2 separate regions of the Homo sapiens genome follow, and region 1 is linked to region 2. The links come from fine-mapping of genetic effects on gene expression. A gene starts in region 2. The other region holds a variant in brackets. All regions are shown on one strand. Distances are between the middles of the regions.

What was found.
Region 1: its variant is fine-mapped to the expression of MORC2-AS1 in whole blood (TOPMed, PIP 0.99).

What each region holds. Positions count from the first base shown.
Region 1 is chr22:30,898,214-30,906,213 of GRCh38, forward strand. OSBP2 (oxysterol binding protein 2) reads left to right here. Exons shown (of 14, transcript NM_030758.4): 13 at 7,624-7,856; 14 at 7,984-8,000. All of the region lies in intron 2 of LOC107985544 (a long non-coding RNA gene), which reads right to left. It also overlaps the pseudogene EIF4HP2. Among named protein-coding and RNA genes, the nearest start is that of MORC2-AS1, 20 kb to the right of the region's middle. RefSeq lists an enhancer at 5,028-5,127. The variant A/C (reference allele first, on the strand shown) is at 4,008.
Region 2 is chr22:30,917,323-30,926,412 of GRCh38, forward strand. MORC2-AS1 (MORC2 antisense RNA 1) reads left to right here and starts at 4,986. Exons shown (of 2, transcript NR_026920.1): 1 at 4,986-5,193; 2 at 7,407-9,090. MORC2 (MORC family CW-type zinc finger 2) reads right to left here. Exons shown (of 26, transcript NM_001303256.3): 26 at 7,808-9,090. It overlaps LOC107985544 (a long non-coding RNA gene), which reads right to left and starts at 4,457. Exons shown (of 3, transcript NR_146603.1): 1 at 4,266-4,457.

The DNA.
Region 1 (8,000 bases), 20 kb before region 2:
TGATGGTACATGCCTGTAGTCCCAGATACTCAGGAGGACTGAGGTGGGAGGATCACTTGAGCCCAGGAGGTCGAGGCTGCAGTGAGTTGTGAACACACCACTGCACTCTAGCCTGTGTGACAGAGCAAGACCCTGTCTCAAAAAATAATAATAATTTTGGCTAGACGTGGTGGTTCATGCCTATAATCTCCTGTATTCCATTTTCACACTGCTATAAAGATACCACCAGAGACTGGGTAATTTATAAAGGAGAAAAGGTTTAATTAACTCACAGTTCTGCCTGATTGATTGGGGAAGCCTCAGGAAACTCAATCATGGCGTAAGGTGAAGGAGAAGCAAGTACCTTCTTCACAAGGCAGCAGGAAAAGAGCAGAGAGTAGGGGAAACAGCTGCTTACAAAACCATCAGATCTAGTGAGAACTCACTCACTATCACAAGAATAGCATGGGGGAAACCACCCCCATGGTCCAATCACCTCCCACCCGGTCCCTCCCCTGACATGTGGGGATTACAATTTGAGATGAGATTTGGGTAGGGACACAGCCAAACCCTATTATCCCAGCACTTTGGAAGGCTGAGGCGGGAGGATTGCTTGAGTTGAAGAATTTGAGACCAGCCTGGGCAATATGGCAAGATATCATCTTTATATTAATAATAATAATAATAATAATAATAAAAGCAGAAATCAATTAAAAAAACAAAGCCAAAAGTTGATTCTTTGAGGCATAAAAAAACTGTCAAAATAGAAAACTACTGACAAGACTGATCAAGATAGAAATAAATATTAATGAAAAAGGTTTAATGTGACATATAAAGTATAAAGACATAATTAAAACTTAGATTGGAGGGACAAATTCTTAGAAAAATATAACAAGAACTAACTCTAGCTGGGCACAGTGGCTCATGCTTATAATCCCAGCACTTTGGAAAGCCAAGGCAGTTGGATTGCTTAAGCCCATGAGTTCAAGACCAACCTGGGCAACAGCAAGACCCTGTCTCTACAAAAAAAAAATTTTTTTAATTAGCCATGTGTAGTCCCACCTGTAGTACACATGTGTAGTACACACCTGTAGTCCCAGCTACTCAGGAGGCTGAGGCAGGAAGGTTACTTGAGCCCAGGAAGTCGAGGCTGCAGTGAGCCATGACTACTACTGCATACCAGCCTGGGTGACAAAGCAGACCCTATCTCAAAAAAAAAAAAAAAAGAAAAAGAACTGACTCTAGAAGAAATTGAAAACATGAATAGTCCTATAATAAAGTAACTGAAGCAATAGTTTAAAAATTACTGTAAGGAAAACACGAGGCCCAGATAATTTTACAGATGAATTCTCCCTATTTTTTCAGAAACATATTATTCCAATTTCATATAAAGTGTTCCAGATCATAGAAAAAGGAAATATTCACCTCTCCTAAACTGTGAGGCCAGGATAACCCTCATACCAAATTAGGCTAAACTAGCAGTAGGAAAATAAAAGTTCTACCCTATTTCACTTATATTAATAAATATATAAGCAAAAATCTAAAACGATATCAGAAAATCCAATCCAACAGTGTATAAAAAAGATAGCATCCTATAATCAGGTTGAATTTATCCTGGGTATATAGAATGATTTTATATTAGAAAATCCATAGAGTAATCATATTAACAGATTTCAATAGATTCAGAAAAATCATTTTAGGTGCCTAGATACAAGATTAATATACGAAAGCCAGTTGCATTTCAGCAAACAACTAGAAAAATGCAATTTAAGATAAGACACCAAGACTGGGCGCAGTGGCTCATGCCTGTAATCCCAGCACTTTGGGAAGCCAAGGCAGGCAGATCACCTGAGGTCGGGAGTTTGAGACCAGCCTGACCAACATGGAGAAACCCCATCTCTACTAAAAATACGACATTAGGCGTGGCGGCGCATGCCTGTAATCCCAGCTACTTTGGAGGCTGAGGCAGGAGAATCACTTGAACCCAGGAGGCAAAGGTTGTGGTGAGCCAAGATCATGCCATTGCACTCCAGCCTGGGCAACAAGAGCGAAACTCCATCTCAAAAAAAAAAAAAAAATTAACAGCATATAACATCAAGGACCTTGTAATAAATCTAATATAATCCAGACCTCTATAGAGAACATTATACAGCTTTAATAAGAGATACCAAAGAAGAGCTAAATAAATGGAGAAAGATATAATGTTCACGGATAGAAAGTATTGTAAAGATGTCATGATTTAAAAAGTCAGTAAATCAAACAAAACCCCAATAGGGACCTTCATGGAACTTGATATTAGAATTTTTAAATTTATATTGAGGAATAAAGGGCCAAGACATTTCTGAAGAAGACCAGAGAGGACTTACCCTACTAGATACCAGGATTTTTATTTTGAAACTCTAATGGAACAGATTAGTGAGCCCAGAAACAGACCCATGGATATATGTACCTCTGATATATGACAAAGGTGGCATATCAGATCTTGTGGGAAGATGGAATGGCTCACCAAATGAATCCCTATGGAAAAAGATGCACTTAATCCCTCCCTCACGTTATAAAGAAAATCAAATAATGGCCTTACAGTAATATTGTTTGACTTATTGTAAACAATGACTTAATAAGTTGAAAAGGATAAATATCTTTTAGACCCTAAGGAAATATTAAGACACAAGCATTCATATATTTGACCATATTAAAATACTTTTGTTCATTGAGAACTTTTACTCACTAAAAGGCAATTTAAAGAAAGTGAAAAGACGATGCATAAACAAACTTGGAGAAGGTAATCATAATATCTACCTACACTTGACAGAGGATTATTATCAAGAATACAGAGTATTTTATCATAGTTAAAAATAAAAATTTTTAAAAGATCACATAAAGAACTTTTTTTTGAGATGGAGTCTCACTCTGTCGCCCAGCCTGGAGTACAGTGATGTGATCTCGACTCATTGCAACCTCCGCCTCCCGGGTTCAAGCGATTCTCCTGCCTCAGCCTCCTGAGGAGCTGGGATTACAGGTGTGCGCCACCACGCCCGACTAATTTTTGTATTTTTAGTAGAGATGGAGTTTTGCCATGTTGGCCAGGCTGGTCTCAAATTCCTGACCTCAGGTGATCTGCCTGCCTCTGCCTCCCAAAGTGCTGGGATTACAGGCAAAAGCCACCATGCCCAGCCCACATAAAGAACTTCTAATCAACAATTAATGTAAAAATAATGGGAAAATGTGCAAGAGTCATGAACAAGAATTTTGCAGAAAAAACATATATGGCCAGTCATCACATAAAAAACATGTATGTTGAAGAAGCTGTAGAGCTACAATATCTCTGATACATTGCTGCTGGCAAAAGTTGTAAATTGGTACAACACTCGGGAAAACAGTTTGGCTTTCCACCAGGCGTGGTGGCTCACGCCTGTAATCCCAGCACTTTGGGAGGCCAAGGCCGGTGGAACACCTGAGGTCAGGAGTTCGAGACCAGCCTGGCCAACCTGGTGAAACCCTGTCTCTACTAAAAATATAAAAATTAGCCAGGCGTGGTGGCACACACCTGTAATCCCAGCTACTCGGAAAGCTGAGGCAGGAAAAGTGCTTGAACCTGGGAAGTGGAGGTTGCAGTGTCCGAGATGGTGCCACTGCACTCCAGCCTGGACGACGAGTGAAATTCTGTCCCCCCACAAAAAAAGATGAACAATCACATAGTCATAACCCAGTAATTCTACTTGTAAAAATATACTCGAGAAATTCTTGCAAATGTACAACAGGACTTATGCATGAGACTATTCCAATAACAAAAACTTGGAAACAACACAAATTTATTGAATGAATAACTGTGGTACATTCGCATGAAGGAATATATACAGTAGCTAAAACTAAACCCCAGTAACATGAAGCAACGTAGGTAAATCTTAGCAATATAAGAAAAAAAAAAAAAACGAAAAAAAAAAAACCAAAAAAAAAAAACAGAGGGTCCCACGGCAGTACTGGTGGCCATGGTTCCCGTAGCCAGAAGGAGTCGCTCACAGAGCCCC[A/C]CACACAGCATATGTAGGGAATCTACCTTTTAATATGGTTCAGGGCGACATAGATGCTATCTTTAAGGATCTCAGCATAAGGAGTGTACGGGTAGTCAGAGACAAAGACACAGATAAATTTAAAGGATTCTGCTATATAGAATTCGATGAAGTGGATTCCCTTAAGGAAGCTTGACATACGATGGTGCACTGTTGGGCAATCAGTCACTTCATGTGGACATTGCAGAAGGCAGAAAACAAGATAAAGGTGGCTTTGGATTCAGAAAAGGTGTACCAGATGACGAAGCTTCAGGGATGACTTCTTAGGAGGCAGGGGAGGTAGTCACCCAGGTGACTGGGAAACAGGCCCCCAACTGGGCAGCCACTTCAGAGATGGTCCTCCCTTCCACGATCCAACATGGATTTCAAAGAACCGACAGAGGAGGGAAGAGCACAAAGACCACGACTCCAGCTTAAACCTCGAATGTTGTGACGCCCCTCAATGAAGTAGCCGATCCCAACTCTGCTATCTTCAGGGGTGCCAGACCCAGAGTGGAATTCGTTCACAAGGAGCAAGAATGAGCCTGCGGTTGGGAGGGAATGGAACATGGGGGGTTGGAGCAGGACCACAGCCTGGTGAACCCCTGGGCCATGTTCCTGCAGCTTCCACTCCCATACCTGCCACTGGCCTCCCCACAGTGGAAACACAGCTTGTTGTGAGTGCATGCCAGCTGTCAACAAGTGGTTTTTAGTACATTCTGGGCTTTGCTGTATCTATCTAGTGCCTGTTTGTGCGTTTTTTTCTTTCTACCACTGCTTCCCCATTTTCCTTCTGTCCTTTTCCTCCCAGCTCGTTTTCCTAGCAGCACATGGGGTTCCCCAGAGGATCGGAGGTGGCCATGTGGGGGAGTCGTTTGGGCTGCGGTACTGCATCATTTTTCTCCTTTGCTTTCTCTTTTTACTTTAGACATTGGCCCGACTCCAGGTGTTTCCTTTCACTTCCTCAGTGTTTCTCTTCTGACCTGCATGTTGAGTTCTGTATTGCGTTGGCTTCCAACAAAAACCAGAAGTCACTGACAGACTGAACTGCACCTTGTTGGTATTCAGCTGTGATGGACATAGAGAATTGGAGGCACCTTGTTTTCACAACTAGGATAAAAATAGGTGTTGATTCTTGCAGGGTCCTTTCCATTCCTATTGAGAGGGAGCCCTGGCTCCATGACCCCCTCCCAAAGTGGACTGTCCAAAGGGATAGGCTCACACGAGAAACAGCGAGAGCTGAAAGTGGAGACCGTGGAATAGCAGTAGGGAGTCCACGGAGAAAACACAGTGAATGTTCGTAGGCATTCACGTGTTTTTGTTACTGCTTTTTCGAGGCTGTGTCCCAATGAGTTCACTCCTTTCACCAGACATGGTCGAGGTTCCCCTCTCTGGCCAGCTGCAGTGAATGGCCAGCGGGTTTCTTTTCTCCTGGGCCAAGGCACTTTGAGGGTTGGGGGATAGCGCCGGCACTGCGCTTGGCTGACTGCAGCGCTGACACGGTGTTTCCCCAAATCCCTGTTGCCTGTGTGTTTGTGTTTATCTGTTCCTAGTACAGGCAACATAATGAGATACTGTGCTTCCCACCTCCCCTTCAATTCATAGCCAAAATGGGTCTAGAATCTGGCACTTTACTCATTTCCCTTGATAAATGAAATTGTACTGTGCAGAGCTGTCAGGACCTTCAGATGATCGTATAGGACTGTAGCTGTCTAGGTCTGAGGCTGCATCTTGGGGACACACTTGGTTGTTCCCATGTGCAGGGTTCAGCACTTACCTGGGAGTGGTAGTGGTTAGGCTTTTGAGCTTGAACGCCCGCGTGTGAACAGATGAAAAATCCTTCAGTACCCAAATCCCAGTCTTCCCTTTGGGGAGCAGTTGGGGGGTGGCTGGCAGCAAGGGCCTAGGAAAGAGACCCTTGCAGGGTGATGGCAGGGCAGCCTGGGGCGCCCAGTGTAGTGTGCTTAGTAATTGGTCACCAGCTGTCATCCTTGGCTTCTCCTACTGTATCTTTGTTACAAGCCCTCCGCAATCCACAGAACTCTCTCTCCTTCCTTCCACCTGTCAGCTTCTCTGCTTCTGAGATAAGAACCATTTCTGTAACACCAATACTTAAGAAAGACATGCATTATGTGGTGTAATCAAACCTGATGCTTTCAGATCATCTACTTACATCTTCAACATGGATAAGATAAACAAAACAAATGCATCTAAACTTCTGGGCAATCCAGTTGATTTTTAAATGTAAGAATGGAATTCCAAACACAACACATTCAGCTATATGACAGAAAGTAAATCTATGGATATGGTATTTTTTGAAGGATCTTTTCAACAAAAGAAATGCTTACATAATTAAAATATATATATATATATACACACATTAGGAAAGATGGACTAACTACAACCCAAGTAGAGAAAGTATGAACAAGGCCTGCTGGACAGTTATACAACCTTGCACTCAACAACTGTTCTCTTCAATCACATGGAACGTGTGCAAAAACTGCCCATATACTGGGCCATAAAGCAAATTTCAAAGGACTGAAATTATGCCAAGTATATTGTCTGACTCCAAGGCAATTATACTAGAAAAAAATGACTAGAAAAATCCCCATATGGGCTGGGCACAGTAGCTGATGCCTGTAATCCCAACACTCTGGAAGGCCAAGATAGGCAGACCAATTGAGGTCAGGGGTTCAATACCAGCCTGGCCAACATGACAAAACCCCATCTCTACTAAAAATACAATAAAATTAGCTGGGTGTGGGGGCATGCCCTGAAATCCCAGCTACTCAGGAGGCTAAGGCAGGAGAGTTGCTTGAACCCAGGAGGCGGAGGTTGCAGTGAGCGAAGCATCAGGCCACTTCACTCCAGCCTGGGCCACAGAGCGAGACCCGTCTTTTTTTTTTTTTTTTTTTTTTTTTTTTTTAGACGGAGCCTCGAACTGTCGCCCAGGCTGGAGTGCAATGGTGTGATCTCGGCTCACCACAACCTCGGCCTCCTGGGGTTCAAGCAATTCTCCCACCTCAGCCTCCTGAGTAGATTACCTGGGATTACAGGTGCCTGCCACCATGCCCAGCTAATTTTTAGTAGAAACGGGCTTTCACTATGTTGGCCAGGCTGGTCTCGAACTCCTGACCTCGTGATCCACCGGCCTCAGCCTCCCAAAGCGCTGGGATTACAGGCGTGAGCCACCGTGCCCAGCGGAGACCCTGTCTTAAAAAAGCCAGGCACTCCAGCCTGGGCAACAAGAGTGAAACTGTCTCAAAAAAGAAGAAGAAAAAAAAACATAATAGAAAAGAAGAAAAGCCAAGAAATATTAAGCTAGGCAATTCCCAGATAAGTCTAATGTGGCAAAACAGCGGCAGGTTGGCCATGTGAGCATGGGAGGTGTGGGGAGCAGAAGGCAGCTGTTTGCAGCCACTGGGTTCCGCCGGGTGGGCTCACTGGGGTGGGCCCAAGGCCAGAGGGAGTCCTGGACGCGGGGAGCTGGAGGGTGAGGCGACCCGGGAGGAGACACCGCCAGGCAGGGGAGGGCGGCCGGGTAGGTGTGGTCCGGCTCACACCGCAGCCACCGCCACCGCCACCACCACCGCCACAGGGAGAACGCGGAGAACATGTACTACTTCTCAGAGCTGGCCCTGACCCTCAACGAGCACGAGGAGGGCGTAGCGCCAACCGACAGCCGCCTGCGGCCCGACCAGCGGCTGATGGAGAAGGGCCGTTGGGACGAGGCCAATACCGAGAAGCAGCGGCTGGAGGAGAAGCAGCGCCTGTCGCGGCGCCGGCGGCTGGAGGCCTGCGGGCCGGGCAGCAGCTGCAGCTCGGAGGAAGGTGAGGCCGGGCGGGAAGGGCGCCCCGGAGGGGAGGAAAGGGGTGCCCGGGTGGGGGTGCCGCAGGGACGGATTCCGGGGGAGCAGGCCACAAGCCCACCCACCAGCCCACTGTGCCTGCCCAGCAGAGAAGGAGGCGGATGCC
Region 2 (9,090 bases):
TACAGTTGAGCAAAATCATCTAACGCATAGCCTGTTTTTATAATAGAGTGTTGAATATCTCACATCATTTATTGAACACTGTACACTATAGAGTATCAAACGTTTACCCTTGTGGCTGACAGCTGCAGCTCACCGCCACTGCCTGGCATCACAATATCTTATAGAATATTGCTAGCCTGGAGAAAGATGAAAATTCAAAATTCAAAGTGCAGCTTCTACTGAATGGGTATTGCTTTCACAACATCATAAAGTCAAAACAATCCTAAGTCAAACCATCATTAAGGTAGGGACCATCCGTATGTGAAAGACAAAACTATAAAGACTTTAGAAGATAATACAAAATATCTTCATGACCTCAGGGTAGAGAAGTATTTCTTACTTTTGTTTTGTTTTTTTGAGATGGAGTTTTGCTCCTGTCTCCCAGGCTGGAGTGCAATGGTGCAATCTTGGCTCACTGCAACTTCTGCCTCCCGGGTTCAAGCAATTCTTCTGCCTCAGCCTCCTGAGTAGCTGGATTACAGGCACTCACCATCACACCCCAGCTAATTTTTGTATTTTTAGTAGGGTTGGGGTTTCACCATGTTGGCCAGGCTGGTCTCAAACTCTTGACCTCAGGTGATCTGCCCGCCTCGGCCTCCCAAATTGCTGGGATTACAGGCGTGGGCCATTGCACCCGGCCAAGAAGTATTTCTTAAACAAGTTACAATAAAACTATAAATAAAGGACTGATAAATTATTATTCTACATTTTTAATTAAGGATTCCTAGTCCTCAAGACTCTGTAAAAAGAGAATAAAAAAGAAGGCATACCAAAGAATAGGAGAAAAAATCTGCAACACAGATAACTTATAAAGAACATGTCTCCAGAATATACAAAATTCAAATAAGAAAAAGATAAAATAGAAAAATGGGCCCAAATCTTGAGCAAACACTTCATCACAGAAAGCTAAATGGTCAATAAGGCCAGGCACAATGGCTCATGCCTGTAATCCCAGCACTTTGGGAGGCTGAGGCAAGCGGATCGCTTGTGTCCAGGAATTCAAGACCAGCCAGGGTGACATAGCGAAACCCTGTCTCTACGAAAAATACAAAAATTAGCCAGGCATTGTGGCACATGCCTGTAGTCCTAACTACTTGGGAGGCTGAGGCAGGAGGACTCCTTGAGCCCAGGAGGTGGAGGTTGCAGCGTGCTGCGATTGTGCCACTGCACTCCAGCCTGGGCGACAGAGCAAGACCCTGTCTCAAAAATAAATAAAAATAAATAAAATAAATGGTCAATAAATATAAGAAAAGGTGCTCAACCACATTTTGGAAATCAGAAAAATGTAAATTAAACCACACTTAGATACCACTATGCCCTCATCAGACTGGCAAAACATTTCAAGTCTAGCAATATCAAGCACAGGCAACAAAGTAGACAAAGCACTTATCCAGTGCCAATGAGTGTGAAAATTAACACAACCGGTTCTGGCATTACCTAGTAAAGTGGAAATGGGCATGAACTATGACTCTGCAATTCTACTCCAAGGTTTATATCCTAGGGCAGGGGTCCCCAACCCTCAGGCCACGGACTGGTACCAGTCCATGGCCTGTTAGGAACCAGACCCACAGCAGGTGAGCTGCAGGCAAGCAGGCAAAGCTTCATCTGTATTTACAGCCGCTACCCATTACCCATTACCACCTGAGCTCTGCCTCCAGTCAGATCAGCGGCGGCATTAGATTCTCATAGGAGCAAGAACCCTATGTAAACTGCGCATGCAAGGGATCTAGGTTGCATGTTCCTGATGAGAATCGAATGCCTGATGATCTGTCACTGTCTCCCATCACCCACAGATGAGACCATCTAGCTCCAGGAAAACAAGCTCAGGCTCCCACTGATTCTACATTATGGTGAGTTGTATAATTATTTCATTATATATTACAATGTAATAATAACAGAAATAAAGTGCACAATAAATGTAATGCGTTTGAATCATCCCAAAAACCATCCCCCACCCCAGTTCATGGAGAAACTGTCTTCCATGAAACCAGTCCCTGGTACCAAAAATGTTGGGGACAGCTGTCCCAGGGAGAAAGTCCTGCACACATGCAACAGGAGACATAAACAATGCACAGTTGCCAGTCTCAGAGGAATGCATTTAAAATTGTATTATGTTCAATTGCAGGTGTAATTCATTCATTTTCATTACTGTCTAGTATTCGGCAGTGATGTAGCAACCCAAATAACAAAGAGGCTCTCTAAAAGAAAAGACATATATACATAAATTTGCAATGCTTTGTTCCTAAATAAGTATATTTTCTTTTGAGAACCTCTCTTTATTGTTATTTAGGTTAACATCCAGAATACTATACAGTAGTGAAAATGAATAAATTACAGTTACATCCAACAACATGGATGATTTTCTGGAACACAATGTTGAAAATAAAAAAAAAGAAAACCGCAAAACAATAAAACGTTATGTCCATCTAAGTTCAAAAACAAAGCAAAATAAAACACTTAGGGCAAAATAAAACAGGAATACACAGAGCTCATAAAAATATAATGAAGAGTAAAGAAACATAATTATAAAATGAAATACTAAGAGTAATAAACACAATTCAGGATGATGGTGACCTCTGAGCAGGGAGACAAGGGGTCCAGGAAAGACACACAGGGATTTATAATATAACAAGCCAGGTGATGGGTGTTTGATGTATACTTTTTCTGCTTTATAATTTTTTTTTTTTTAAAGACAGTTTCTCACTCTGTCACCCAGGCTAGAGTACAGTGGCACGATCATAGCTCATTGCAGCCTCCACCTCCCGGGCTCAAGCGATTCTCCCACCTCGGCCTCAGCACAAACCCAGCTAATTTTTGTATTTAATGTGGAGATGGCGTCTTGCTATGTTGCCCAGGCTGGTCTCCAACTCCTGGGCTCAAGCAATCTGCCCACCTTGGCCTCCCAAAGTGTTGGAATTACAGGCGTGAGCCACCGCTTCAGGCCTCCTTTACAAATATTTTATACAGCATTCTTTCATAGCTACTCAATGTCTAATTGAAAATAAAAACAGCAGCATAAAGGAGAAAACTCTATGTTTTTTTTTTTTTTATAGAAGGTGTAAAGGCATTTGACAAAATTCAGCCAGTTTCCAGGGGGCACAGCCCACGTTTCATTCTGTGTGACTGCTGCCCCCTGGCGCCCAACTCAGGCAGGACTGGCAACTACCGGTGAGTCCCAGCAGCCGCAAGACAAACTAAAGGAAACCCCAACATTTTAAAAGCCACTTGCCGAAACTCTCACCGCTCAACTCTCACATGCGGATTTCCACGCATATCAGAAACAGCCCGGGATCATTATTCAACATTGTTTCAGAGGTTCTAACTAAAGCAAACTGACAAAATAAATTGGTATACTGGCAAATTTGTATCTATAAAAAACAGGCTTATTAAAACTACCAGAATTCCTAAGACAGAAAGTGAATTATATTAAATCATTAGCTTTTCTACATATTAATAATCAATGAGTAATACAGATGGAAAAAAGTATTCCATCACAATAGACAAAAACCATAAAACACTTAGGAATAATTTTAACCAGAAAGTTATAGAACCCGTATAAAGAATTTATAAAATCTTATTGGAGGACCTAAAAGAAGTCTTGAGTAAATGGAAAGCCATTTTTTATCCTCTGGGGGAGGATTAATATCACAAAAATGTCAATGCTCCCAAAACTTCCATTTAAATTTAATGCAATTATAATTTAAATCCCAATGGAACACTTTCTTTTAGGCAGGGATGGGAACGAACTGGATAATGCGATTAAATATTTCATGTGAGAGAATACATTCTAAGACTGGAAAAGCATTTTTTAACAAGTGAGGGAGACTGATCTATTTAGATGCTGATGACGCCCAAAATTATAGTTTCAGCCAGAACCTCACCCCTCACATCAGACTCACTTGTGCAACTGACCACAGATGTCTCCACTGGCGTCTAAGCGGGATCTCAAACTCAACAGGTCCACACCTGTTGGCTCATTTAGTAAGAGGCTCATTTAATAAGTGGGGCTGGAATAAGTTAATTTCCACCTGGGGGCGGGAGACGCTTGACTCTTGCCTTACAGCTTATACTAAAATATATTCCATAAGGACTATAGGTTGTCTAGTAAAAAATAAATAATAAACATTGCAACAAAATGTAAGAGAATATCGGGGGAAGGGGAGAAGAGAGAAGGGGATTGATTTCCCTAAGCATGATAGGAATCCCCAAAACTTTAAAACATTTACCTTTCAACAAACACCATAAACCAAGCCAAGGACAAACGCATAGAAAACGGACTAATGTTAACTAAGTCCAAGAGGCTTCAGGCGCTTGGCCTCGGGTCAAAAGGGAGACATACAGGCTGGCTCTTCCGGGCAAGAGGAAAAACACGCAGCTTCCTTTCCAAGTGTTCTTCCTTTCAGAGATAAAAGCGCCGACCCTAAGGACATCTGTTCAACGAATGTTTTTCCCTAATGACCCCCGGAAAGTTGGAAAGCCGGGGTAGAAAAGATTTCTTCTGCACTTTGACTTAATTAATGCGCAGCAGCTTGCAGGAAAAAAAAAAAATCCTCGCTTCTCTGTTTCGGGTGTGAGTGGGCCATTGCTCTCCCTGTAAGGAGCTACTAGAGACGCTGAGGCAGGAGAATCGCTTGAACCCTGGAGGCGGAGGTTGCAGTGAGGCGAGATGGCGCCACTGCACTCCAGCCTGGGCGACAGAGCGAAACTGTCTCAAAAAAAAAAAAAAAAAAAAAGTAGGGGATTAGAGCTGGCCACGGCTTCCCCAGAAACCTGCAGTTACTGGAGTAGGAAGAGGCCTCGGAGAATCCCTGGAAGCATCTACCTAAAAGACGCGAGGAAACCCCCAAAGGCCACAGGCACCTGCACCAAACCCTGAGTGCCGCAGGAAGCTCGCGAGGCTTCCAAAGCGCATGCGCAGGTCACGGTACGGGCACGTGCGGCGCGCCAGCAAAACCACGCAGGCGTCTTGTCGCTTCCGCCTCGAGCGTGTGGCGGGATTGCGGAAGCCCTCCACAGTTCATAACCGTTGGCTGGTTATGAACCGTTCATAACGGGCGTTAATAACCATACCCTGTTAGACTAAGCATGGTCCACCCGCGAATCCTCTACAGAGATGGCCAAGCGCTGGGGTCGTGGCTGCGTCCTCTAGGCCAGGTGAGAATTTACAACCCACCCTCGGCCACTGTTGTGCTGTGGCCGCTGATGATTAAGCATGAGGAACTCAGAAACTCTGAACCTTCTGACAAACGGGTTCTCCCCTGCCCACCGCGGTGCCCCAAACCCAGCAGGACAGATTGGTTTACATGGTGGGGCATTGGGGAGGACCCAGAGCTTTCAATAAGGGAAGAAATGATGTGGGGAGGGACAGTAAATCAAAGTAGGGGATTAGGCCGGGCGCTGTGGCTCACGTCTGTAATCCCAGCCCTTTGGGAGGCTGAGGCAGATGGATCTCTCGAGACTGGGAGTTCTAGACCAGCCTGGCCAACATGGCGAAACCCCATCTCTACTAAAAATACGAAAATTAGCCGGGCGTGGTGGCGCGCGCCTGTAATTCCAGCTACTAGAGAGGCTGAGGCAGGAGAATCGCTTGAACCCTGGAGGCAGAGGTTGCAATGAGGCAAGATGGCGCCACTGCACTCCAGCCTGGGCTACAGAGCGAGACTGTCTCAAAAAAAAAAAAAAAAAAAAGTAGGGGATTAGAGCTGGCCACAGCTTCCCCAGTAACCTGCAGTTACTGGAGCAGGAAGGGGCCTCGGAGAATCCCTGGAAGCATCTCAACAGAATCCAGAGGGGACAAGAAAAGAGGAGGGATACGTCTGTCGCATCCTTCCCTTCTCATTGATCCAAGTTTGCACTAGTGGTGTGAGCCCTCCTTATCTTCCAGGCCTTGGTGGGCAGCTGTTGACATGTCCAGAACCCCAGGAAGTGCTGAAGGTACCTGCAGTTCAGGCCCCATGGAAGCCCAGACCTCCTTCACCCTTCGGGGACACTGAAATTGGCCAAATGTTTAGGCCATGAGGATGGCTGCTGAGTAAGCCCATAATCCCTACATCGGACACAAGTAAGCAGGTGAAGGCCTACAGGTAGCAGGTAGGGGCCAGTGAATCTTGGAAGCAAAGATTTGGGGGTCAAGAACAGCAGGGAGCTCTGGGCCCCCATCCTAGCTTCAACCAGAGCAGCTCCAGGACTCCTGGCTTTCCATATGGGCTTCTGGATAAATTTTAGGTACTCCTGAGGCTGAATAAGCTGGAAAGCCTCTGCCATCACCCAACTCCGTTATTTTAGAGGAGGAACAGGAGCCAAAATGGGCAGTGACTTGTCTGAGGCCTTGCCAGCTTGAAGAAGGAAATGTCCGCTGAACCCAACAGTGGCCCTGGTAAGGCCTGGTGCATTGCAAGTTACCGGATGAAAATGGTGACTGGCCGGGTGCAGTGGCTCATGCCTGTAATCCCAGCCAAGGCGGGCAAATCACTTGAGATCAGGAGTTTGAGACCAGCCTGGCCAACATGGTGAAACCCTGTCTTTACCAAAAAATACAAAAATTAGCTGGGCATGGTGGCACGCACCTGTAGTCCCAGCTACTTGGGAGGCTGAGAGGGGAGAATCGCTGGAACCCAGGAGGTGAAGGTTGCAATGAGCCGAGACTGTGCCACTGCACTCCAGCCTGGGTGACAGAGCAAGAGTCCGTCACAAAACAAACAAAAACAGAAACAACCCCAAATGTCCGTAAGTAGGAGACAATATATCCAACACATGAAATGCTCTGTGGTTCATGAGAATAAAGAAGACCCATATGGGTTATTCTGAAGCAGGTTCCACTACACTAAGCTGCACTAAGTAGTTTTAACAGGCAGAAATGGAACAGAGTGGAAGTGCGTGCACTTAGGAGGGATACTCTCCAGGGAGAATTCAGGGATTGGGTGGGAGAAGGGAGCCTTGCTTTTCATGGTCCAGCCTTTTAGACGGTTTTAATGTTTACCATGTGCATGTTTCACTTAAAAACCAAACACCCTAGGTGAGGCATGGTGGCTCACACTGTAATCCCAGCACTCTGGGAGGCCGAGGCAGGTGGATCACTTGAGCTCAGGAGTTTGAGACCATCCTAAGCAACATGACGAAACTCTACCAAAAATACAAAAAAAATTCGCCAGGCATGATGGTGTGTGCCTGTGGTTCCAGCTACCTGGGAGGCTAAGGTGGGAGATCACTTGAGCCTGGAAGGCAGATGTATCAGTGAGCCAAGATCGTGCCACTGCACTCCAGCCTAGGTGACCAGGGCGAGACCCCCATCTCAAACAAAACACCCTAGAGTCCCCACCCCTCTCGTTCTTTAAACACCAGCATTGCTGCCCTTCACTTTCTTGCAGCCTTGTGCAAAGGACCTTCTCACCACAGATCAGCCAGACCATCTTCCTCCTTCCAAGTCATCAAAGAGTTCCAAGCTGGTCACCTGTCCCTTGATGTTCCCAGGAAACCAGGAAAGAGGACCCCTGCATTTTATCTTCCCATCCAGAGTGGCAGGATCTCTGCCTGGGAAACAGGCTTCATTCAGCACAGCTGTGGTAGCATTAACAAAGCAAAGTGGGCACATGTAGAAGTTGAAGCTAAAACATTCAAGAACTCCAGTCTGTTTCTGTGGATGTTAAGGGGGTGAAGATAAAACAATGGAGGTGATGAGGAGGAATAACTTGAAGACAGTTTAAAGCCACAGTGATACAAAGAATGAAGAGAAGGAAGGTGCTGGATTTTACTAAGAAAACAGACTGAGTTCAGGAGTCTCACCAGTAGAACTTTATAGTATTGCGTTTCGATTACATGTGTGTGAATTTTAAAAACTGATTACCCTCCAGTAAAAATGTGGAACCAATTTGCATTTGGATTAAAACATTAGGTTTGGGGACAAAAGTGGACCCCATGCTGCCTGAGATGAAGAGAGAGAGCAGGATGGCAGAGGAATCACCAGCTCAAGAAACCCCAAGACTTGGACAGTCTTCCAGCAGAAGAGGCCAGGGTCTCTCAGTGTACTACTCCAAACAGGCCTCTCCTAGAGATGTAGTCTGGGAAGGTCCAAAACCCACCAGACAGGCACATCCAGTGGGGAAAAGACTTCCCATTCCAGTGTGGCCTGCATCCCTCACCTCTGCTTCCCAGTCTTCTGCTGACCTCAGAGGAGCAGGGTGGCCATTGCTGATCTGGGTTAGGGAGATGCCAGAAACACACCCAGGTTTGAACCACAGGTTAGTGGTACAAAGTCACAGTCCTTGTGCCTTCAGAAAACCCAGAGGCCCCAAATACGAGTGGGAAGAGAGTTGGGAAAAACTGAACCAGACTCTTCCAATGGCCATTAAAGAGAAAATTCAGCAACGCTTGCCTTTGTCTTTGACCCTGAGAAGTTAAGGGACACAGATTGTGGCGCCGTGATGGAACATGGAGGGAAGGCATGGTGTGCTTCCTGCAGAGATGCCTCTGGAGTCCCTGTGGCCACGGGATCTCACTGGCCCCCTCTTCAGGCACCTTGATGGGGCTCAGTGGGGCCAGGCCGAAGGGTGGAAGTAGAAAAGCATCAACAGGCTGTCCAGATCAATTGGCACCATCCAAGGCCCTGCTGCACCCACACATGGAGGTCACCAGCTCAGCCCCAGGGGTTCTTTCACACACAAGCTCCTTCCCTAAGGAGTCCTGTGGGGTTCCACACTCAGTGTGCTGCCCAAGTCAGAGATTTACCACAGATCTGTCTCCCCCTCAACCTGGACTCAAGTTACTGTGGTGAGAAACCTCACTGTCCATGGTTAACTGAAGAAATCCCTCCTTCAGAAAGAACTTGAGTAGTAGATGAGGTGGTTAGACAGGATCTTTTTCCCTCAAGCTGTTTGGACGCCACAGCCAGGACCAACTCTGACAGCTGCGAGAGAGAGAGCCCCTCCAATGTGGAACCTCCTACACAGCCCCCCTTTTGGGTCCCTGGATATGAGCCCCCAGCAGGACCACCACTCTAGGGGGAAGTCTCCCTCCCATCCCTCAGATCCCCACATTGTTCCTCCTGTAGGAGAA